Regions from separate parts of the Homo sapiens genome. Here region 2 is linked to region 1. Evidence: fine-mapped expression QTL. A gene starts in region 1. The other region holds a variant in brackets. All regions are shown on one strand. Distances are from middle to middle. Region 1 holds the start of CBLN3 (cerebellin 3 precursor). Region 2 has its middle 160 kb from the start of GZMB.

Evidence for each region. PIP is the estimated chance that this variant, and not a neighbour inherited with it, causes the effect.
Region 2: its variant is fine-mapped to the expression of CBLN3 in minor salivary gland (GTEx, PIP 0.97).

What each region holds. Positions count from the first base shown.
Region 1 is chr14:24,424,298-24,436,875 of GRCh38, forward strand. CBLN3 (cerebellin 3 precursor) reads right to left here and starts at 5,371. Exons shown (of 3, transcript NM_001039771.3): 1 at 4,458-5,371; 2 at 3,989-4,108; 3 at 2,248-3,689. The coding sequence starts at 4,757. The coding sequence ends at 3,492. KHNYN (KH and NYN domain containing) reads left to right here and starts at 5,657. Exons shown (of 8, transcript NM_015299.3): 1 at 5,657-5,822; 2 at 6,417-6,634; 3 at 7,166-8,313; 4 at 8,425-8,555; 5 at 8,639-8,735; 6 at 11,775-11,882; 7 at 12,091-12,192. The coding sequence starts at 6,434. RefSeq lists a silencer at 5,494-6,033 and enhancers at 6,064-6,243, 6,388-6,951, 6,804-6,913, 6,952-7,513, 7,514-8,075.
Region 2 is chr14:24,787,193-24,799,770 of GRCh38, forward strand. No RefSeq gene overlaps it. Among named protein-coding and RNA genes, the nearest start is that of GZMB, 160 kb to the left of the region's middle. The variant AG/A (reference allele first, on the strand shown) is at 6,588.

The sequences.
Region 1 (12,578 bases):
GGTTCACCTTCTAAAATGATTAAAATCTGAGCTGGTATTTATCTTGTATATATCATGGGAAATTTTCAAGCCCATACGTTTTCCATGCAGTGGTATTGTAGCTGCATGCCTTTTCTCTACATGATGCCATCTTTGAGTTTAGTGACTCTGATATGCAGATGTCCTGAAGATGTCCATGCCTTAATCCCTGGAACCTGTGAATATGTTATGTTACATGGCAAAACGAACTTCAAATATGCAATTCAGGTTGTGGACCTTAAAATAGGGAGATTATCCTGGCTTATCTGGGTGGGCCTAATCACACGAGTCCCTAAACTCAGAGAACTTTCTACACTGAAGTCAGAGAGATGTGGTAGAAAGGTAGGCCTGAGAGATTTAAAGTGTGAGAAGGACTTGGCTTGCAGTTGTTGGCTTGAGAATGGAGGGGGCTAGGACCTAAGTCCTACAACCGTAAGGAACTGAACTTTAAATGAGTTTAGAAGTGGATTCTTCCCCTCCAGTAAGGAAGGCTGCCCTGCTTATACTTTGCTTTTGATCTTGTGAAACCCTGAGCAGAGAAGCCAGTCACGTTTTGTTGGACTTCTGACCCACAGAAACTGTGAGGTAATAAACAGTTGTTTTAAGCCACCAAGTTGGTAGTACTTTGTGGCCAGATGTGGTAGCTCACACCTGTAATCAGATCACGTGAGGCCAGGAGTTTGATACCAGCCTGGACAACATGGCGAAACCCCATCTTTACTAAAAATACAAAAAATTAGCTGGGTGTGGTGGCTCGCACCTGTAATCCCAGCTACTCGGGAGGCTGAGGCATGAGCATTGCTTGAACCCAGGAGGTGGAGGTTGCAGTGAGCTGAAATTGCACCACTGCACTCCGGCCTGGTCGACAGAGCATGACTCTGCCTCAAAAAACAACAATAAAAAACAACTTCTAGTTGTCTTCCCCAATAGCTAATTTCCCCTTCTTCCTTGTTATAAAACTCCCAACTTCTGGCTGGACATGGCTGCCTGGAATAAACACTGTAGCTCCTAGCCAAGCTCCCTGGCTTGGTGAGCCCGGGTGACTAAATTCTACTGAGACACAATCAGAAATATTGGTGCATATTTCAGAAAGCTTCTTTCAAGGAAAGAGATGTGTTGTTTCTTCCTTCCTCCTTCCTGTTAGGCTGATGTAATGTCTGGAGCTCAGGGAGCCGTCTTGGGTCATGAGGTGGCAAGCTAAGGATGGTAGAACAAGACAGAAGACTGGGCTTTCAAATGATCATAAGGCTGCCATCCATCCCTGGACTCTTATTTACAGATTTTTCTATGTGAGACAAAAATGATTTCCTATTTTGTTTAAGCTATTCTTATTTTGGGTTTTACTGTTACAGCCAAACCTACTCTTAATCATTTTGCCTAATTAATATCTCATTATAATTAGTGGGGTAATACAGAGGATCCATTTTCTAGGAGATGAACGATCAAGCCTGAGCAGTGAACAGTTGTCTTTTGGACATCTGACTAATCCATTGTCTTATAACACGCCATTGGACTGTTTTTCTTCTTAGTTGCAAAATATACTCAAATAGTTCCACCAGTATCTTTCATTCTTGGCACAGTGCCAGATCTTCTTGGAATTATTCACAGTTCTCTGTACTCACCCCTCCCTACTTACATAGATAAAGAAAAACAAATGTACCTTGCAAATAGACAAAATGCCTACTATATTTATGTTCTTGTACTTATCACGACTCACTAAAAATAGCCTATATTCACTCTTCTTCACTCAGCATATTAACTACTTTTTGTCACACTTTATAGTGACTTCTTCCTTTTTGAATATCATTGCAGGTACATGGATTTAAAAAATTCACCTTGTTCCAATTAACTGTATTATTTTCCTTTTGATAATCAAATTGTCAAAGCATGTCAAGTGGGAGCTTCTTTAAATTGATTCCTTTGCCTTTTCAGCTTTACTTTATACATTTAAAAAGTATCTTTGCTTTCTGTCATCAACAACATGTTCTGGGCCTGGAGTTACTTAAGGTGTGCAGCTATTCTCCAAGGAACCTGAGGGTTTTTGGTATTTTTTTTTAATGGTGACTAATATCTGAAGCAAAGATCCAGTTTCTAAGAATGGATATCAGATTGTTCCTGATGTTGTTTTTAGGATTAGTGACAGTTCAAAAAGTTATTTCTTTTCAAAACCACAAATTCACCTTGGTATTTCCTATTTAACTCAAACATTATTCAACTTTTAAAATGTAATTTTAGTATACAGTTTGATATTTATTTTCCTCTGCAACATACCTACTTGTACCTGTAACACCCGATCCAAACTCCAGAGGCATCTTCTCCTTAGTAATTCTATAGTGTCTCACTGACCACCATTCTCTAGTTGTTTTATTGATAGATTCATCCAGGCTGGGCCAATGGGACAGCGGGATAAGAAAGAGAGAGGGAGGGTTTAGCATACTGGCAGGAGAGGGTCTGAAGGAATGAATCATGGAATCCCAGGTAATAGGAAGCCTAAGGAGGAGAATAAGACAGCACAGATCAGGAGAAAGAGAGATAGTGGGGATATGCTGGAACAGGTACAGTGAAGATAACTCAGTGAGAGAGCTGGGAGGAAGGAGGCAGCAGTCAGAGTGTGGAGGGACTAAAGTTCAAACTTCAAAGGTGGAGCAGTTTCAGGAGGTGGCCAAGCAAGAGGATGCATGGTTATCGATGTTTTCCATGGTCCACTTCCAGCTCTGTATACCTGCTCTCAGCTCTGCTCTCAGCCAGAGCAAACACACTCACCCTAATCTCAGGTGGGGAGGTAAGGGCCAGAGTCCATCTGGGATCCAGCATAGAAGGACAGCCAGGATTGCTACCTGCTGGCTGCTCTGCTATACATGCAGAATGTGTACCATGTTCAGTCTAGACAATACACCCTCCTTCCTTCCTCACCAGCCACAGACTCCAGGCCCTTCCCACCCTTCTGCCTGTGGCTGAGCCTCCCACCCTAGCCCATACGGTGCTGGTTCAGCTTCTGACGGTGCTGGCTGAGATCCGTGATGCTGGCTTTCCTCACAGGAAGAAGCCTGCAGGGTACGCTGAGGCTTGTCCATCTGGGCTCCTGTGGGGGCCTGTCAGGCTCACCTGCGCCACCTGTCCCTGATCAGCATTGAGCAGGAAGCTGGGGTGGGGGAACCGGAGGAGCAGAGGCCGCAAAGTAGTGCAGATCTTCCTTCTTGCCAAACCTTGCCCTGATCCTAGGGCTGCAGGCAGGAACAGATGCAGCAGGTGGCTGGGAGGGTAACTGGGGGTGGGTGGGTGGAAAGGCCTGGTCTGGAGATGCCACAGCTCTACTCTTCTCTTAAACTTGGGTGTTTGGCACAGGGTCCCATGCAAAGAGGTGGGATAGGAGCCAGAGGGAGTCTCTCTCCTGCCTCTGCTGTTTCTGGGGCAAGAGAGGGCAGAAGAAAGTTGTCAGGGGCTGGATTCTTGTGCTTGAAAGACTTGGGTCCTCAGAGAGGGAAGATGAGGAAGCCAGAGAAACTTGAGTATTTCCAACCACCCAGTAGATTCCCCCGACGCAGGCGCAGAGACACTCGGTCCCCAGGGTCCAAGGGCAGTAGCACAGAGCTGGTGGCTGCCTCCCGGGTCACGTCAGGATCATTGGCAAAGGCTGAGATGACAGGCCACGTGTTCAGCATCAGGCTCACCTGGGGAGGGGAGCCCAGTTAGCCCCCATTCCCCAGCCCTTAGCTCAGGACCCCCCACTTTCCCAGGAGCTTCCTCTTGGGAAGCTGGGTTTTAATGGGCTCTCCCGGGAGGGCTGAGGGGCGGCCAGCATTGGACTCTGCACATCCTCCACACTCAATGCAAGGCAGGCCCATTCCTCCCCTGGTCCTGGCCTCCAGGACACAGGTCAATGGAGAGTCCACCCGGAGGTCAGCTGGGCTCCCCTTCTTCCCCCTCCCCACCCTCCTGAGCCGGGGATGGGGGCCAGTGCTGAGGTCACCTGGACAGTTTGGCGGTTGTACACCTTCACCACATGGAACCGGAAGCTGTAGACACCCCGGACAGGGGCTACGAAGGAGCCAGAGGCCCGGTCAAAGCCACCGCCCTCGTTCACCAGGACCTGGGGGAAGCAGAGCCTGCTGAGTGGGGCTCAGGAAATGCCCATGGCTCAGGGGTACCATGGGGACTAGGGGCAGGGGCAGTGAGTAATGAATAGAAGGAGTGGCAAGTAGGAGTGAATAGGAGTGAACAGATTCAAAAGAAATGGTGAGAAGGGGCAAGGAGAGGGCTGCGTATGGGTGGAGGGAGGGGAAACCGTCGGTGGGGTGGTGGGGCAATAGGCCAGATTAGTGAAAGATGTAGGAAGCTGTTTTCTTAAAGCCTCAGAGACAGCAAAGTGGGCTTGGACAGTTGCTTCCAGGTCCTTGCAGGGTCTTTCCAGGTCCCCTGGACAGGGGTAGGGGGATTACCTGGTCGAAGTAGATGGCCCCACTGGTGCCATTGCCGGTTTCCCCTGCTGGCTCATGGTGGTGGCTTCGGACCGCAGCAAATGCCACTCGCCCAGGGGGTGCCTCTCCCAGGGCTGCTCCCCCGGGCCCCCCTGCAGCAGCTCGGCCAGGCTCACAGACCACCAGGCACTCCCCCTCCAGCAGGACGGGCTCTGACCCCTCCTGGGCCCACCCGGCCCCCAGGGCCAGAAGCACCAGAACCAAGGGCAGCCCGGGACTGTGTAGGGGACCTGGTAGCCAGTGTGGCTTGGCTCCCAACATGGCTGAGGGGCTCTGCAACCCACAAGTGCCCCGGTCTTCTGCCCCTCTTCTGTTTCCGCTCCTCTCCCTGGATTCTCACCGCCGGCACCCTGATCGTCTGCCCTCTCTAGGCTCGCTGAACCCCCTCTCCATACCTGTGTCCCAGCTCTGTCCTGCCTCCCACTCTTACTCCTGCTGTCACTGCAGTTCCCTCCTCCTTGGCAGAGCATGCAGTGACAGCAGTTGGGCTTTGGGAGAGAAAGGAGGGATGAAGCCGCCTGCCCACTGGACGGGAGGGCTGCAGCCAGAGCTTCAGGGCAGCCCTGCTGGATGGGACAGCACTGAGGGCTGGACCTGGGGGGATGGAGAACATGGTATGTGTGTGTGACGGGTGTGACAGAATGTGTGAGTGTGTGCATATGCCAGAGGCAGCCCCTCAACCCCTTCCTCCTACTCTTCCTCTCTTCAAAATCCCCCACAAATCAACAGCCCTTCTTCGTGGCATCTTTCCGTTTGTTGGAAGAAAGGGGTACTCCACCACGGGTACCCTCCGCCTCCCGCCTCCCGCCTACCCCCTCCGCCACGATTGCTTTGGTGGAAAGTGCTTGGGCCTAGAGCACCAGTGGGCCAGTCACGCTGCCTCTTTGGTCGGCCACATCTTTATTCGCGGGAAACAACTTTCAACGCATGGTTCCCCTTTCCGAGAAGTAACTGCGCAGAATGCGCGAGGACCCTGAGGGCCGGGAGACAGACGGGAGGGCTGGTGAGAAGCGCAAGGGGCGAGCCCTGGAGCCGCCGAGGGGACTAGGCCGAGCGGGCCCGTCGGGGCCTCTGGGCGCGGCGGCGGGGTTGGGAGGAGGGCGCGCAGCCGGGAGGAGCTGGGCTGACTCCGCCCCAGGCCAGGAAGTGACTCAAGAAACAGTTTGCGTGCGATGTGGACAAGAGAGGTCCCCGCTGGGTGAGGAACCCGGGAAGGCCCGCCCAGATTCGGGCCCCCTGCCCTTGTCCCCTGGGCTGGGGGCGCGGGCAAAGCGGGGGCCTGGCGGGCGCTGAGAGGACCTGAAGCCGGCGCGGGCGGCGGAGGCGGTAGGCGCGCCCCTCCACCGCGCCCGGGAGCGGGGAGCGGGGGCCGCGGTGCGGAGTAGGCCCGGCCCGGGGTGGCTGCCCCAGTCCGCGGTGGGCGGGCCCGGCCCGGCCCGGCCCCTGGGCCCTGGGCGGTGCTCCTGGCCCGACGGAGAGGGGCAGCGGACGGCTGGGGGAGGGGTGGGAGTGGCTTGAACCTTGGAAATGGCAGACCAGGGCCCCCAGAGGACAGCCTAGTTCAATCCCCTGCTGAGGATTCGTCCTTAAGAAGCTTCAGAGTGCCCCAGGAGACTCCTTCTGGCCTCCAGGCCGAGCTGGAGCCCCCCCACCCTTCTTGCTCCGGACTGTGGTCATCCTTTTCCAAAGCCCAGACGCCCACTCTCGATAGACAGCCTTGTTTACCGGGACTTCCTCTCCGGAGAGGCCTGCGTGACATACACCCTCCCTACCTCCAGTGGACTCAGATGCTTGTCACCTCCTGGGGCTGTTTACCAGAGCCTTAACTAGGTGCGACCTGTTGATAGCTGGTGTAGTCCCAGGAACCAGGATTTGGATGGAGGGTACAATGAGGCTCTGAGCTGCCTTCTCCCCTTCCAGGGCTGGGGGCAGCAGCCATGCCTACCTGGGGGGCCCGCCCCGCGTCCCCAGATCGCTTTGCGGTGTCTGCGGAGGCTGAGAACAAGGTTCGGGAACAGCAGCCCCATGTGGAGCGCATCTTCAGCGTGGGGGTGAGCGTCCTTCCGAAGGACTGTCCGGACAACCCCCACATCTGGCTGCAGCTGGAGGGCCCCAAGGAAAACGCCAGCAGAGCCAAGGTGAACGCCTTCTCTCCCCCATCCCTCCAGGCACCAAGGACGCTTTCCCCCAGGGCGGAGGAGAGCAGGGCCGAGGAGAGCAGGGAAGAGGAGGGGCCTGGGGAGGATCTCCACTTCTTGGTTGTCTCACTGGCAACCTCAGTGCCCCTGAGTTTTGAGGGACTTTCCAACTCTATATTTGTTTTCAGTTTCAGCTTAATTTCTTCTGTGATGGCCCAGGCTGGCAAAAATCATTCTGTGCTCTTTGGGAGAATAGAGATATCTGGCTGAACAAGTTGGCCCCACCAAGGAATGCACTGTGGGGTGGGAGGCTGGGCCACATTGCTTCCTTTGGGATTAGGCTGGGGTTCCAGGATGGCTCAATCATGTACCAGCTTTGTGATGGGAGTCTCAGTTTCCTTATCTCTAAAATGGGAATAACATCATGTGGATACTCCAGACATCCTGGAGCTCAGGAGCGAGCAAGGAGCCAGGAGGGGTGATCTGGGCCAGTTAGTTTACTTTTCCTGACCTTCCCTTCCTCCCAACCAGGAGTACCTGAAGGGCCTCTGCAGCCCAGAACTGCAGGATGAAATCCACTACCCGCCCAAACTGCACTGCATCTTTCTGGGAGCCCAGGGCTTCTTCCTTGACTGCCTGGCCTGGAGCACGTCAGCCCATCTGGTGCCCAGGGCGCCAGGCTCACTGATGATCAGTGGCCTGACTGAAGCCTTTGTCATGGCTCAGAGCCGGGTAGAAGAGCTGGCAGAGCGGCTGAGCTGGGACTTCACGCCAGGACCATCTTCCGGAGCCTCTCAGTGTACTGGAGTGCTGAGAGACTTCTCTGCCCTGCTGCAGTCCCCGGGGGATGCCCATAGAGAGGCTCTGTTGCAGTTGCCCCTGGCTGTCCAGGAGGAGCTGCTGAGTCTGGTGCAGGAGGCGTCTAGTGGGCAGGGGCCAGGAGCACTGGCTTCTTGGGAGGGGCGGAGCTCAGCCTTGCTGGGTGCTCAGTGCCAAGGAGTGAGAGCTCCCCCTAGTGACGGCAGGGAGTCCCTGGACACTGGATCTATGGGACCCGGAGATTGCAGGGGAGCAAGGGGAGACACTTACGCTGTGGAGAAGGAGGGAGGGAAACAGGGTGGTCCCAGGGAGATGGATTGGGGGTGGAAGGAGTTGCCTGGGGAAGAGGCGTGGGAGAGAGAAGTGGCCCTCAGGCCACAGTCAGTGGGTGGAGGGGCAAGGGAGTCAGCACCCCTGAAAGGGAAGGCCCTGGGGAAGGAGGAGATAGCTCTGGGAGGAGGAGGGTTCTGTGTCCACCGTGAGCCTCCCGGTGCCCATGGCTCCTGTCACAGGGCAGCTCAGTCCCGAGGAGCCTCCCTCCTCCAGCGGCTCCACAATGGGAATGCCTCTCCTCCGAGGGTGCCCAGCCCTCCACCTGCACCGGAACCCCCATGGCACTGTGGAGACCGGGGTGACTGCGGAGACCGGGGAGACGTGGGGGACAGGGGAGACAAGCAGCAGGGCATGGCACGGGGTCGGGGGCCTCAATGGAAACGAGGCGCCCGAGGGGGCAACTTGGTGACTGGCACACAGCGTTTCAAGGAGGCCCTGCAGGATCCTTTCACCCTGTGCCTTGCCAATGTGCCTGGCCAGCCAGACCTCCGCCATATTGTCATTGACGGCAGCAACGTGGCCATGGTGTGAGTACCTGGTGGGGCTAAGGGCCTAGGAGAGGGAGGATATGTCCTGAGGGGCTGGCATTGTAGCCAGGGTGCCAAGCCCCTCCTCTGGCCGACCCCCTCCCACTACAGGCATGGCCTCCAGCACTACTTCTCCAGCCGGGGCATTGCCATTGCTGTGCAGTACTTCTGGGACCGTGGTCACCGTGACATAACTGTCTTTGTGCCTCAGTGGCGCTTCAGTAAGGATGCCAAAGTCAGAGGTGAGTTGGGCCTGGTCTTCAGTGTCCCAGGATAGGCTCTGTTTCCACTTTGAGGAGAACCCTATTATGTTCTTTTTCAATAGAGAGTCACTTCCTGCAAAAGCTGTATTCCCTCAGCCTGCTCTCCCTCACACCCTCACGAGTCATGGATGGCAAGAGGATCTCCTCCTATGATGACAGGTACTTGCTCCTCTCCTGGCCCCAGGCTTGATATTGAAGGAGCCCTATGGAAGACTGAGGGAGAGAGAAAAGCTCCTGGTGGTTTACGCTGTTTCTAAGCCTTGGTGGTGGGTAAGGGGCCAGTTATTCCTCTGTGTGCCTTATGATTGGGTAGGTAAACCTGCCCTGCAGGTGTGATGAGATGAACTGTAGACAACCATGTTTGTCTATTCATCATTCATCAAACAAAATGATACCTTGTATTTATATAGTGCCTTACTGTCTAGAAAATACTGGTTTAGTGGAAAGGTGGGAAAGCTGGTTACATAAGTAGCTGACAGATGTCTTCTTATAACCTGAATTTCCAAACATGCAGAGAAATTTCCCTAACATTCTGGAAAAACCAGAGTAAAGGTCAAAATAACAAGTAAAATGGAGAAACACAACGCATGAATAATAGGACTGTACAAAACATGGTATAATAGAAAGATCACTGGATTTAGAATTGGAAGATCTGAATTTGAGCCTCAAGTAGCACTACTCATTGACTTTGACTGTGGAACTTTTCTTAGTGAATTAACCTCTTTGTCTCAGGGTCCTCCTCCATTCATTTACCCTCCTTGTGAATATACGAAAAAGATAAGGTATGTGCTTGCCTTGCTCAAGGTGCTAGGCAAGAGTACAGTGACATTCCATCCTAACTTTGCACAGACCTACTCAAGTGTGGCAGCGGGTATATCTCCAATCTACAGTCGTGGAGACAGAGGGTCAGAGTGGTTACCTGTCTTAGCAAAGGGGAATTAGACCTCAAAGCTGCCAGATGGTTTGAATGAAAATACAAGGCACACTTCTACCATAGTCTGCCTAGGTGGTGTGAGAAATGAGCAGATTTTAGAAAGCCAAGTTAAAAAATTTACAAGTTCTTTATTCTCTAGGACATTATACAGTTTTTAAAAATTAGTTTTTCCAAACCATAGTGATTATATACTTTGTCTTTTCAAACACTTACCTTCTATTCCTTAACAAGCAAATGGTATTCTACAAAAAAGCAGTTTACGTTCTCCCAATGTTATTCTATTTATATCTAGATGTCACAGATTACCCAAGATATGGAATCTTCTTTCCACACCTGCATTGAAACAGAATTGAAACTGAAGATTGAGTTCGTTTTAATGAATGTTAAAGGCATGTGTCTGCCCAGTTGTGTGGGACCTGGTTGGCAGATAACATAATATAAATTGGGAATTCGCCCAGTAACAGTGAATAAGCACAGTGGTACACAGCGTAGGCATACGGAATGAATGTTGCTGAACAACATACTGTGTAATGCGATCATAGTAAAATATGCTTAACTGGAAAATACCATTTGCATACCATAAGTGTACCATATAATTTTTTTTTGGTTTGTTTTTGAGACGGAGCCTTGCTCTGTCGCCACGCTGGAGTGCAGTGGCACGATCTCGGCTCACTGCAACCTCTGCCTCCCAGGTTCAAGTGATTCCCTTACCTCAGCCTCCCGAGTAGCTGGGACTTCAGGTGCATGCCACCGTGCCCAGCTAACTTTTTGCATTTTAGTAGAGATGGGGTTTCACCATGTTGGCCAGGGTGGTCTTGATTTCCTGACCTCATGATCCGCCCACCTCAGCCTCCCAAAGTGCTGGGATTACAGGCGTGAGCCACCAAGCCCGGCCATAGACATTTGTATGTCATTCCCTTAATTTGTTTCCCAGACAGAAGCTCAGAGCCTGATATCTGTCACACCTAATCCTGACTCCCAGTTCCCCCTATACCACACTATCTTTCAAATACTGACTGCTCACTTAGTACTAGGTGCATGGCCTGCAGGAGGAGGTGGGAACACTGGGAACAAGATCTGATTCTTGACTAGAGAGCCGAAAGAAACCATAAATCAAACACTACAGGAACTCAGAGGGAAAGGAGCCCCATTCTGGCTGGGGTTTTGTGGGAAAGGAGAGATTTGTGAGTTTTTGTGTTGAGAAGACTGGGATGGGTTGGATCTCTGTTTCTAAATCTGTTAAAAAGACCACCACCCATCACTTCATGAGTCCTACCCTGTCTTGTGGAATCAGAATTACTGAATGGAGCCCAGGCATTTTTTAAAAAAGTTCCCTTGGTAATTCTGTTCCTTAGCAAGTCTTGGGAAGTGCCTTCCAGATAGAGGAAATAGTTGGAGAAATATGGAAGTCAGCATAAGACATATGTGGAGAGCAGAGTGTAATCTGATTATTGATTTTAGCTGGAGTTGAGAGTGGGTTAGGGAATATTGGGAGAGATAAGGCTGTAAGGGTGATTTGAGCTGGCCTGTAGAAGGCCTTAGCTGCCAGGCCTGGGTGTGTGGACTTTATTTGGTAAATAAAGGGCAAGTGTGGAAGAGTTTTGTGTAGGTGATAAGCATGCTTTCTTGGGGCAGGGCAGGGGAGACTGGAGGGTGGGTGAGTGGTCAGAGGCGGGGACCCCCTTGTTAGGAGGTTATGCATAATCTCAGTTGCAATATCTGAATTACTGGGGTGGTAATGGTGGGCCTGGGAAGGAAGGGAGCAGAGCACAAGGCTTTTCAAAGGAAAGGCATGTTGGATTTGCAAGGGATTGGTTGGGCAGGGTGGAAGACAGAGCTAGATCTTACTGTTTACTAACGAGGCACAAAGTGTTGGGTGAAGGACTATGGTTGGCAGATAGGATGCTACTGGGAGACCACCTTGGATTCATCTTTGTTTCCTCTCTAGGCCATGGCACTTGCATCTAGTCAGTTGCCTGTAGCTGGGTCAAGGTGAGGTAGGGGGCCAGATCTCCATCACCAGAAGTGGCCTATGGGAGACAGTAAAACTTCTGGGGTTGGGGCCTTGGAGAGTCCCAAATGGTTGCTGTGGTTTTTACTTTTATTTTTGTAGATTTGGGGGATACCAATACAGTTTTGCTACATAGATATATTGCATAGTGGTGAAGTCTAGGCTTTTAATGTAACCATGATCCAAACAGTGAACATTGTACCCAGTAGGTAATTTTTCAACCCTCTCTCGGTTGCTGTGGTTTTGGAGACAGGTTCATGGTGAAGCTGGCTGAAGAGACAGATGGGATAATTGTCTCCAATGACCAGTTCCGGGACCTGGCGGAGGAGTCTGAGAAGTGGATGGCAATCATCAGAGAACGGTGAGGGAGCCCTCCCGCTGAGAACTGGGCACAGATGCAGATGTTTTTCTAAAGCCAGCTCTGCTCTGGCCATGGGGTGAAAACTCTGGGAAGGAGGTGAAGTTTTCTTGAAGGATGGAGCCAGCAGCTTCTGGTGATACTGGTCTCGGTTGTCTGGGAGGTGGGCAAGGGCCCCCTCTGTGACCACACATTATCTTTCGCCATCCAGCCTGCTGCCCTTTACCTTTGTGGGAAACCTCTTCATGGTACCTGATGACCCACTGGGGCGAAACGGCCCCACCCTGGATGAATTTCTGAAGAAGCCAGCCAGGTAATCAATCCCCTAGACTACTTACAGGCAGCCCCCACCCCTGGCCCTCTCTCAGCAGGCCCAGAGACTTGGGTGGAAGTGTGACCTCAGTTTGGGCCAGCTTAATTTTGCAGTGGTTTGAGTTGCATTGGCCTTGGCCTTTATAAGCTTCCCAGGGGATCCTGACATAGAACCTCCTTGCTGGGAGGGAAACACCTGCTTCCTGTTTCTCTTAATCAGCATGTTTGATGGAGTTATTTGGAAAATGGTTGCTTATACTGACAGCCAGTTGTATTCAGCATGCCTTCTGCTGACCATTACATAAGTGATTCATTTAGGACTAGAACTAGATCATAATAGTGGCAGAGTTCACCCTGTTTCTAAAAGAACGGCCCATCTTCCCTTCA
Region 2 (12,578 bases), 360 kb after region 1:
TTTAGCACAGGTTTTGTGGCCATTGATCTGGCATTGTGCTCTTTTCCATCCCAGTCAGGAAGGAGAGCCAGAAACTTCACATTCACATGGGATGGACAACAGTACACATTTATACTGACATATTCATTCCCCCAACTCTCAATAAACCACATGTAAGCAAATCTCTGTCTCTGTCTCAGAATCTGTTTCCCATGAAATCCCATCCATGACAAACACTGAACCATTGGCATGACAACCACATGCATCACTGCTTATTTCTTCAGTGCTTTCCTCTGTATAGAAAACAGATAGAGCTACCACTTGTGATAAAAGCCAGTTTATTATAATCAGAAGCTGATTTATTGCCCAGATTCCCCTCAGGAATGAAGGATTGATTTCTCCAGCACCTGCTGCTGGAAAATAGCCCTTAGCTATCAGCCTTCTTTGGAAGGAAATGGCAAACCCTAAGTCACACCTCTTTTCAGGGGCAGCCCTCATTTAGTGACTGACCAACAAGGTGGTATAATGGCCAGGCTCCCTCACTCCTGCTTGGAAAAACTCTGAATGGGCCACCTCAGCTCTAACCTCTCTCGGGATTGGTTGAGGACTTTGGACTGTATTACAGCTCAATTACTCCTTCACTCCAATCCTGTGTCCTTTCCCTCCCAAGAGCATTTCTTAATAAATCTCTATGTGCTAATACCCTTTTTAGAATCTGTTTCTTAATGAAACCAACCTGCAATGTCCTTCTCTCCCGAGATAATTCTTACTCATCCTTTAAGAACTCAGCTCAGAGGTCCCCACCTCTGGAACCTCCCCCAGCCATGTCGCATTCCCAATCTCCTCTTCCATTCTCAGTTAGTTTTCCTTTGATGGTGTTTCCATAACATCCTGTATATGCTTCCATCACCTCTGTCATAGCAATTCTCACTCTCTTTTAATAGTCATCTACATATGTGGCTTTCTCCTGCACTGAACTGTATGCTTTTTGTGTTGCCCAACTGATCATCCCAGGGACAGAAGAAAGAGCACCAAAGTGTGCTTCAGAAATCTGAATTTTGGTCTGAGCTCTTCTAGTAGTTTTCTATATGTCCTTGCCTCTTCATGTGTCAATTTGCATAACAGTAAAATGGAAATGGTAATCTCCATCTTTTTTTCTTTACTCAGTGAGTTTAAAATCTATCATTATAGCTGTGGTTTGGGAAACCCCAGGCAGTACTCCCTCAGAGATGCTTAAATATACTCTCCACTTAACCATGTCCACCTATTCAGTCTTCCACAGGGTGAACGTAAGAGCTAGCTGCCTGCAAGGAGACCAGTGCAGAATAGGAGTTTTGGTTCTCAGGCCGGGAATATACTAATGTGAACATAGCCCCAGGAATTTCTGGGGCAGCCTCAATTTAATTTTTTAATCAAGATAATTATTTAACCATATTTAAATATAATTAACATTTATGCATTTATAGCACTTTGCATATGAGCAACTTCCTAAGCCATGAAAAGAAATCCTTTATTAGGGCATGTGACCCAGTTCAGGTTTGGGAAATCATTATTCTATATAAATTCTAAATCAAAGTAGTAAATTGGCATTGTGATTTATATAAATGCCTCTTATGAGTTTGATTAGCTGAATCAATTCCCCAGATTCCTGGTCATACCTATGAAATGAAATTTAGTTGCCAAAATTTGAAATCTGAGGCTCTGACTTCTTGGAGTGCTCAGCAGTGTAAAGCCACTTCCTAAGGCCCAGCTTAAAATAATAATATGTAGGGACAATTTATCGAGCTCCTAGGATGGGTAGGCTTTGTTCTGGCCACTTTGCAGTTATTGCTTTAATCTTAAAAATGACCCTACAGGGTACCTTGTCCCTTTTGTACAGATGAAGAAGCTGGGGATCACAGCCAGGGATGTGCTACAGCCTGCTTACATGGGTTATGAGAGCCAATAGTACCAGTCTCTTCCCAACTTTGCATTCTGCGACATCACATTGGTAGCTTGAAATCAGCTATGGTGGGAGTATTTGCATCACAGAAATTGGCACATGTTACAAATGAGGGCTTTATTTATATATTTTGGGATCTTTGTGTTTAGCCATTTACCAGAATAACACAGCTTACAGCTAATAACCAGGCCAAGACTCAAACTAAGGTCTGTCAGTCTCCAAATTCTTGCCTGTCCTCCTGTGTTGGAAGAAGCTAGAGGCTGAGTTTCAGAGCCCGGTACTTTCTTAAGACTCTGCAGCTCTCTGCCCAGAGTCCCCACTCCCTGCCCCACCTTCCCCAACTAAATTCTGCTAACTCAAAATAGGAAGCAAAGTTCAGCCAAGGGCCATCCCCTTTATTCAGTTTCAACTCTTGCCAAAAAAAAGTCAAAAGATGAAGCTGTTAGAGAAAAACCAAAAAAAGACAAAGACAACTTGGCTTCTGTTTGTTCAGTATCCGTGAATAAATGCAAAGGAGGAACTGAATAAACCATTAGTTCCCAAATGCTTTCAGGAGCCCCACTGGAGAGCTCTTTTACTTGGCAGTGAGGAGAAGGACCCCATGGAAGCCTTAATTGGCACCATCTAATTACAGGAGATGGAGTAAATCTGTGGTCCAAGTGTCCATCTGCTTCTCATTTCCAATCAGTTAGCACGCATTAAAAGTGAATACAACATAAACTCAGGACAACCTCAGTGATGCATTACATTTCCAAGACAAGAGTAAGGCGAGAAATGAACTTCAAGGAAAATAACAGCAGAATGGGCCAAGTGCCCTACTAAAATCTGGCATGGACTAGAGTCAGACATTGAGAAAATGGCCTTTAACAAATAATTTAGTTTTTAATGACCCTGGACTCCCCACTGGCTATGATGACATTATCAATCCTCAGGCAATGTTTAATAGCCTTGCATATTCATTTTGCACATATTTTATAGTCCTTTTCTTTCTATATTTGTTTCATTTTTGGTTTTTAATTGTTAATCCTTTGGGGACAGAGATAATATCTATGAAGCCTATATGGAATGGCTGTATTTACCCAATGCCTGTACTCCTGTTTTATCTAGAAAGTAAATAACATGCTTTTGATTTTACAGGCTCATAGGTAGAAAAGACTTGCCCTATCTCAGATGATACTTTGGACTTTGGACTTTTGAGTTAATGCTGAAATGAGTTAAGACTTTGGGGGACTGTTGGCAAGGCTTGATTGGTTTTGAAGTGTGAGCGCATGAGATTTGGGAAGAGTCAGGGGCAGAATAATACGGTTTGGCTCTGTGTCCCCACCCAAATCTCATCTTGAATTGTACTCCCATAATTCCCACTTTTGTAGGAGGGACCTGGTGGGAAGTAATTGAATCAGGGGGGTGGTTTCTCCCCTACTATTCTCGTGGCAGTGAATATGTCTCATAAGATCTGATAGTTTGAGAAGGGAAAACCTATTTTGCTTGGTTCTCATTCTCTCTCTTGCCACTGCCATGTAAGAAGTGCCTTTCACCTTCCGCCATGATTGTGAAGCCTCCCTAGCCATGTGGAACTGTAAGTCCATTAAACCTCTTTTTCTTCCCAGTCTCAGGTATGTCTTTATCAGCAACGTGTAAATGAACTAATACAACTAATATCAAAAAATTAAAAGATAAGAAGTGTTGGCAAGGAAGTGGAGAAAAAAAGAACACTTACACACTGCTGCTGGGAATATGAATTAGTGTAGCCACTATGGAAAACAGTGTGGCGGTTCCTCAAAAAGTTAAAACTAGAACTACCATATGATCCAGCAATTCCACTACTGGGTATATATTCAAAGGAAATTAAATTAGTATGTCAAACATATATTTGCACTTTTATGTTTATTCTAGCATTATTCACAATAGCCAAGATATGGAATCAACCTAAATGTCCATCAGTGGATTAATGGATAAAGAAAATGTAGTATATATACAAAATGAAATATTATTCAGTCATAGATAAAATCCTGTTATTTGTGGCAACATGGATAAACCTGGAGAATATTATGTTAAGTGAAATAAGCCCAGCACAGAGAGACAAATACCACATGATCTCACTCATATATGGAGGCTACAAAGTTGTTCTCATAGAAGTAGAGAGCAGAATCATGGTTACCAGAGGATGGGGAGGGTAGGGGGAAAAGGGGGATTGTTTCAGATTGGTCAATGGGTACAAAGCTACAGTTAGATAAGAAGAATACGTTTGGGTGCTCTATTGTATAGTAGGATGATTAGAGTTAATAATAATACATTGTATATTTCAAAATTGCTAGAAGAGAGGTTTTTGAATGTCCTCTTCACAAGGCAACGATAAATGTTTAAAGTGATGGATATACTTATTACCCTGACTTGATAATTACACAATTTATACATGTATTGAAACATCATGTTGTACCCCATTAGTATGTGCGATGATTTTGTATCAATCATAAATTTAAAAAATGAAAAAAAAATTGAAGGGATTGCACTAAAGCACCAGAAGGTCTAACCTTCTATAGTTCTAAGAAAAACTGCAGGAGAGAGCCAGGATGTGGGAGCTGTCCTTCCCAGTGGGTCTCAGGGACACATTTTTGATGGTGGTGGTGGGAAACAGAACCACTACTTATGTCAAGAGACTTTAAGCCAATTAAAACTAAGCTCCTTTTAAAATTTTTTCGAGTACTAAGGAGATTTTTAGGTGGTCTAGCTCTCTTGGAATACAAACTACAAACTATTTTCTTTGGCTGCTCTTTACCTCTTATAAGTCAATGAGAGGATTAATGGTAAAAGGCTTTATTTCTGATCTTTGGAGGACAAGGGAAAGCTAAACAGGAGAACTAGATCAATATAGCATTGTTTCTTCTCAAAAGGACTTAGAATCATTGGGCATTAAATATGGGAGCCCTCAGCATCACCTGGGCCAAGTTTCATAGTTTATAGTCAGAAGTACTAAGGGTCACTCAAACCACTAGTTAGAGGGAGCATAGGGTTTAGAATCCAGCTGCTTTTTTGCAGGATTCTAAACTCTTCTGTGTAGAAAGAGGAGTACATTCTTGGGTCTGTGAAAACTAAAATTTGAAATACCACTTCTGCTTTTAGGGTAAACAACTTTGGGAGTATCTGCCTTGCTCAAGAATTAATTCTTCTCCCCTTTTCCCACAGAGTTGCAGTATGGCACTGTGGTGAGAAGTGGGACAACCATCTTAGCCAACCTGATGATGAGCTCCCCTGGGGATTGGGAATCAGGACTAAGTAATTCCAGCTTAGCCGGGGCTTCTCTCTAACCCTACAGCTATGCTAGGGCTATCTTCCATCAGCTGTGTGGGCTAACTGATCCAGAAGGATGGTCTTCAGGAGAATAAGAGATGGGAGATGGAAAGGGAGCACTCTGTGGCTTCAGGGACTTTCCATAACCTGGGCCAGTCCAGCTGTCCTGCCCAGTTCTGGGCCTGACCCACTGGGCAGGACAGCTCCCACCATCTTGGCTCTGCTACCTTCCATCTCTAGAGTCTATGACACACCTGCATGTTAATATGTAGCACCCTCCTACTCTCCAGCCCCTTAAGCTAGTTTGAATTGAATTGTTGCTGTTACATGAAACTAACAATTTTAACTAACATGGTTCCTTCTTATCTTAGAAGAGTCATCTTCAGGACTTGAACACATTTATTTCCACTTACTTTAATGGATGCTCTATCATATTCTTTTCAACTCTTTGAGAAGGCGTTCTTCTCTCCCATCCAATCAGTTGCTAAGTCAGGACAGTTTTCTTTCATAGAGACTCTCAAATCTATCATTCTTATCCATATCTAATGCCATTAAATTTTGGACCTTATTTCTTCATGTTGGTCATTTGCAATAATCTCCCAATTGGTTGGCTTGACTCTCATCTCTCATTTTTCATCCATTATCCCTTCAAATCTAATCCTAAAGCTTGCCTTGATCATGCCCTGCCTAAGTACTAAACTGTCTTTAGAATTCTGCCTGCCACAAGCAGGGCTATGTACGGGATTACTCACCTAAGCAACGTGGAAGAGATCAGAGGTACAAATTCAGGCATGTGTAGTGTGATGGACTGATGCACGGTCTGTGACTTGAGTTCAAGGCAGCAGCAGGGCCAAAGCTGAAGACAACAAGGAGACTTCTGCTGTGTATGTTTATGGGGTGGGAAAAGCAGTGTGAGAAAGGAGAGTAGTGAGTGGGGACCATGCCACAGGGGAAGGTGGTGGTGAGTGGTTTGTTACTGTACCAGCCTTAGGAACAAAGGGCCAGATGTGTCTAGAAAGAATATTTCCTTTCTTGGAGCAGCCAGAGCTCCCAGTCACTTTCCCACCCCAAATACTCAGGAGCTTCCCCTTTCGCTTCAGTGTGGCATTTAAAGCCTTACTTTTACAGACTCACACTTACATTCCAGGCTTATTATTATTATTATTATTTTACAAATCCTTCTGATGCATCTTCTGCTAAAGTTTTAGTAGAACTGGTATTTAGTGAAATCGGTACTATAGTGAAAAGATTGACGCCAGCCAATTGTTTCCAAAGAAGTGTCAGGGATGGTGCTGTCACCTTGGTGAGTGTTCAGTGATCTGGGGTCTGTCTGCAGTCTTCAGGCTTGGAAATTTGATTTTGTCAGCAGGTCAAATGC[AG/A]GGCCCCTTCCTGGGGTAGTGCTCTAATGGATGCTAATATTTTCTGTCTGTGTTTTCTTTGCTGAATGGTCTGATCTTTGTCTTCTCCACTTGCTGATCTCTGTTTACTGTGGGCTTTCCAGCCTCTTAACTTTGGCTCAGAAAGTACTCCTTCCTGAGCCCTCAGCAGTTCTATACTTTTCCAATAGTTGAAGCAGAACCAGCTACATAATTTGTGGAATTCAGTGCAAAATGACGGGCTCTTGTTTAAACACGTTTAATTATTTCAAGATGGTGACTGCAGAGTATGAAAGGGAACATGGGGTCCTGGGTCACTGCACTGGTTAATGCTCATAAAGCCAGCCCTCCTTTGTAAGATCTCTCCATTTCTCCCCATTCTCACTCCTTTTCACATCCACATAGTGAATTCTCAAAAATTGATTTTGAATGACAACGAAGGATATCAGATATACTGAAATGATACGGAGCTCTTAAAGGCTCTCTAAATCCATACACATTGCATTAAGAGAAAGCCTTTGGATTAATGCACGTTATAAAAATGATAACAGGAGTGTATGGCACTTTAAGTAGAAAACGACAATGGAATATTGGAAGAGTCATCCAGTCTTTGAAATAAATACCGATGGGCCAGAATCATGGAAGTAGTGAATACTAGGGAAGATGAGGGACCCCTTTTTGGATGTGCAAGAAGGAAAGAGGACAGAGTGAAAATATTAGACAAAAACAAAAACAAACCCTCCACCTAGCAAACATTAAGGCTTTTAGACTTTGGAGATCTGCTTTTTCTAAGGGTGCCAATGGTATTCCTGAAAGCACTTTGTGGGAGGGGGTGGGCACATTGGGGCTTGGGGGGAAGCGCAGGACAGGGGTGGGATAGGGGAATGGTCTCTCAAAAAACAACAATCTAATGAGCTTCAGTAATTAGCAAGGCTGCATTCTGCCTTCCCATCCTGGCCTGACAGGACAGTGAGAGTTATGAAACGGCTGCCAGCAGATGAATGGGGTTGCCTCCGCCATCTGTCTTCCAAATGATCCTGTAGGTACAGCTATTATTTCAGTCAGACACTGGCAGGTGGGCAATTGTTCACAGGCTCTGTGAAGAATAGCTGTTGCCAAGGGTTTGGTGAGTGTTACAACTTCCCACAGACCCGTTTTCGGCTTGTCTGAGACATTAAAACATGGAGGCGGCACAGGGTCTGTGACTGACCAGGATTCCTTCGTGGTCTTTTCCCCTCATGTATGCCACTCCGTGCTTCTTCCCACTCTTCCCTCCTCCCTCCAACCCCCCACCCCTCTCCTTCACGCTGTACCCTTTCTCACTCCTCCTCGTGCCCCTCACCTCAGGCTTCCCTCCTCATCAGTTGTTCCTCTTTTCTCTTTTTTCTTCTTCCTCTCACAAAACTACACAAATATCTTATGAGAAAAGTGAGGAGGAAGGGAAAGGAAAGGGAGTGTTGAGGTAGGTTGTGCAAAGCAAAGGGAAACTAGACTAAAATCACCTGCAGGCTCAACTAGAGGGCGGCCCGGGAGTCACCAGTGGTATCATCCCAGGGAAGGAGAGATATAAGGAGGAATTAAAAAAGGAAAAAGAAAAGAGATGCCCAAAAAAGACACCCAGCATTAAATGTTGTATTAATCCTGGTTAATAAGTTGGTCAGAAGATAAGAAAAAACAGCTGGAAGAGGGAGTCTCGTTTAAATCTCCCAAAGGTAGGTGTGAACTTGAGCATATTAAATAGCTTTCAATAATTCGATGTGCTCATTTTGTCAGCATTTTAATTCTCATCCCTTTATGGACCAATTTGAGTGACATAACTCAGCCCACACCTGGTTTGACGTGACAGATAGATTCGAAGCACCACACATTGTTCTCACCTTTACACTGCTAAGAAACTTACTAGAACAGATTCAGAGTTGAGTGAGTTGTGCTCCACTCTAACCTTCCACCCAGGGCATGACATGTCTTTGAAAGGACAGCACTTTGAGAATCAAGTTCAGGGGTAGAATCAACGATTGCTCTTCAAGCCTGGTAAATATGACAAGATATCTAGCACTGTCTTTTCTTTTCTCTTCAAGCCTGCTTATATTCTTATATTCTTTCTCTTAAACTCTTCCTCTTCTTTTCTTCTCCAACCCTCTACCCACTACCACCATCCTGCTCATAAGAATGGCTTAGAAACCAAACCAAACAAAACCAATCTGAAGCAAACCAAAGGCCTTCTCCCCAGCTGCTTTAGTTGTAGGAGGTGTTGTGTATTAAAACCGCTGTATCTCATTAGATAATGTAATTTAAATTTCCTCATGTCAACTTGCCAGTAAGAGAATCTAAATACTGTATGCCAATGCTATGGTTTAAATGTGTTCCCCAAAATTCATGTGTTGAAAACAACTCCAAAGGCAGCAGTGTTGGGAGGTGGGGCCTAATGGCAGAGCCCTCATGAATGGATTAATGCTGTTAGCCGGGGAGTGGATATTTTACAGTGGGAGTGGTTTTGTAATAAAAGTGAATTTGGCTCCCTCTTCCTCTCTCGCCTTCTCTTCTTTTTTCTCCCCTCCATTCACTTGTCCTCCCTTCTCGTCCCTTCTCTTCTCCTCTCCTCACCTCCCCTCACCACCTCCTTCCCCGCTCATGTTTTCTTGCCTTTCCACTCTTCTGCAATAGAATGATGCAGCCAGATGTGGCGCCTCAGTCTTAGACTTCCCAGCCTCCAGAAACATGAGCCAAATTAATTTCTGTTCATTGTAAATTACTCAGTCTCAGCTATTCTCTTATGGCAACAAAAAACAGACTAAGACAGTCAAGTATTATTGAAATGTCTGTTTTACTTACAATCTACTGAAAGTGTTTTGTACTGCGATTTCAGTGGCACAAAAACTTGGGGATCATTTTTGATACTGGATTGAAATTCAAACTCAAAGCTCTTCCTAACAGTGCATGGTGAATCTAGTGGCTTCCTGTCTAACACCCTATCAGAGTGACCATGTTGTTTACCATGAAGCCAGGCACTTTTGAGAATGAAAGGAATCACTATTCATGATTGCACCAAGACAATTGATATAAACCTGAACTGTCCTATACAAACATGATGCACAGTCCCATGCCTATTGTGGAAAGGCTAAATATGAGGAGCAGCATTTTCTTGCAGTCAAGCATGGGTCCATTCTCTGAATGCCTAAAGTCCTAGCTGAAGTTGTCACTCATTTGGAATTTAGCATAGTTTGCCTTAAAATTTTATTTTTCTTTATATGAATATATCCTTGAGATTGAGGTCTGAATTCACATTTCCATTTCCAGGACAGATCCATAAATCCTCAGTACATGTTTGTTGATCATGACCAAGGTTGCCCTAAGAGGAAGTATTGGTTCTCCCTGGTTTTGAGGGGATACCACTACCCCGCAGATTATGAGCAAGTTCTCCTGAATGCTTACACACTTTGCCTTGAGGGTAAAGGAATGTATTGCTTTCCTATTGCTTTTGTAACAGGTTAGTACAAACTTAGTGGATTAAACCAACAATTTATTATCTGATAGTTCTGGACATCAGACGTACTAAAACTAAGGTGTCAGTAAGGCCCTGTTCCTCTGGAAGCTCTAGGGAAGAATCTATTTTCTTGCCTTTTCTACCTCCAAGAGGGCATTTACATTCCTTGACTTGTGGCCCCTTCCTCTCATCTTCAAGGCATCTTTCTCTGCTTTCATCATCACATCAACTTTTTCTGACTCTAACCCTCCTATTTCCCTCGTATAAGGATCTTTGTGATTAGATTGGGCCCACCTAGATAATCCAGGTCTTTGTGATTACATTGGATCCACCTAGATAATCTTCTTCTTAAGGTCTGTTACCTTGAAGACGTCTGCAAAGTCTCTTTTGCCATGTAAGGTAACATATTCACAGGTTCCAGGGATTAGGATGTGGACACTTTTGGGGGCACATTAATCAGCTTACCACAAGGACCCTCTCAAACCAGACTTTTAGTTTATCTTAGTACTCCATTATCTGAAGGTCACAGCCATTGACAGTGTTTCTCATGGTTCTGTTTCCAGTCCAGGTGAACAAAAAAAATTGCTTGTACTAAACTGAAAGTGGTCTTAGTGTCTTTCTAAGGTAGCCAGGGGAGTGAAGGTCTCTGGTGCATGAATAGGTTATCAAAAGTACCATCAAGTCAGTTAAAGAAGAAAACATAAATTATTCCCAAGTGACTTAGACCTTCACCTGCTGTGGCTGCGTACTTCCTCTCAAGGTCTCTTCTGGCTCTTGGTTTGCACACCTTGGGGCAATTACATGCATGATCTACATACATACTTCTCCTGAGAAGAGTCTAGGAGGAAACCTTCAGCATACAATTGAGATATCTGGAATGTAAGAGTTCATTGCTGGTACCCTTTCCCAGGTCCAAGTCTTCTTCTAAAGGACCAGGTGTGCTCCTCCCATTCTCTACCGCGGGTTCTCCCCAGCTGCACCCCACCTGACAGTAAGGAGGCACTAGCTGTGCTGCTGGCATCTGCAAAAAAAAAAAAAAAAAAGAAGAAAGAAAAAAAATCTGCCATACTTCTATCAGCCACTGCCACACAAAGTTTCATTGGTCAAAACGGTTGGTGTCATTTCTGTCTTAGGCTCTCACTCACACCATGTAATGGCCTTCTGTTCCAGGGAGGTTACGCTTTCACCTTCTTTCTTCTTCATGACCAGTTAAGGGTTTATAGTATTCTTTGCAAGATATGCATTGGCATAAGTCATAGATGCCTATATTTTCAATCATCTTTTAAATTTATTTTATTCCGAAAATGAAGACTTCAGCTTTCTCATAGCCAAACATACATATAACCACCATGATCAAGTTAACATGCATTGAATGCCTGCAGTGTGCAAACCACCATGTTAATGCTCTATATGTACTGTCCCATTGAATCCTTACAACAGCCCTATGAAATAAGTATTACTTTCTAATGTTATGAATGAGGAAACTAATGTTTGGAGAAATGTCTTGTCTAACATGTGCATGCACAGACACACACACACACACTTCTCAGTAGAGTTTAGGCTCAAGAGAAAAAATATCAAAATTAATATATAAATAGAAGCAGTAAAATTATGTTAAAGAGAAAAATATTTAAAGTTGATCTTTTCTTGGGTTGGGGGTATCTTAGTTCACTTAGTATTGTTGTAACAGAACACTTGAGGCTGGGTAATTTATAAAGAAAAGAGTTTTATTTGGTGTATGATTGTGCAGGCTGGAAGGTTCGAGATTGGGCAGCTGCATGTGGTGAGGGCCTCAGGCTGTTTCTGCTAGTGGTGGAAAGTGAAAGGGGAGTGGGCATGTGCAAAATGATTGCATGGTGACAGAGGAAGAGAGAGAGAAAAACAGAGGAAGCCAGACTCTTTAACAAGCCACTCTCACAGGAACTAATCCACTTGAGAGCAAAAGCTCACTCACCCCTGCAGGAGGACGTTAATCTATTCATAAGGAATCCACCCCCGTGATCCAAGCACCTCCCTCTAGGCCTCATCTCCCAACACCACCATGTTGAGGATCAAATTTCAACATAAGTTTTGGCAGGAACAAGCTGCATCCAACCCAACAAAGCAGGACGGAAGAACTGATAAACCGTGATGGTAGCAGGTTGCCATCCATGCATTCATTGAATCAATGAACACCTATTTATCGGTCTACTAATGTAGACCTTAGATACACAGACATAATTGAGATTTAGTCTTAGTTCTCTACGAGCCACCTGTTTAGTAAGAAGACAGATCTCATCTGTGATATACAGCAGAATGTTCTAGAGTGCCAAGAAAGGCAATGAGCATGAACAGGAAGAAGTAAGTGATTACTTCAGCCTGGCAGAAAATCAGGGAGAATTTTGTGGGAAGAAGATGTACTGAGTGGAGCCCTGCAAGATAGGTAGAATTTGAATGAGTCTGTCGGGGAAAGCGCCCCAGGCCCAGCAGCTAGTGTGAGTCAAGACACCGAGGTAGGAAAAGTGGTGGC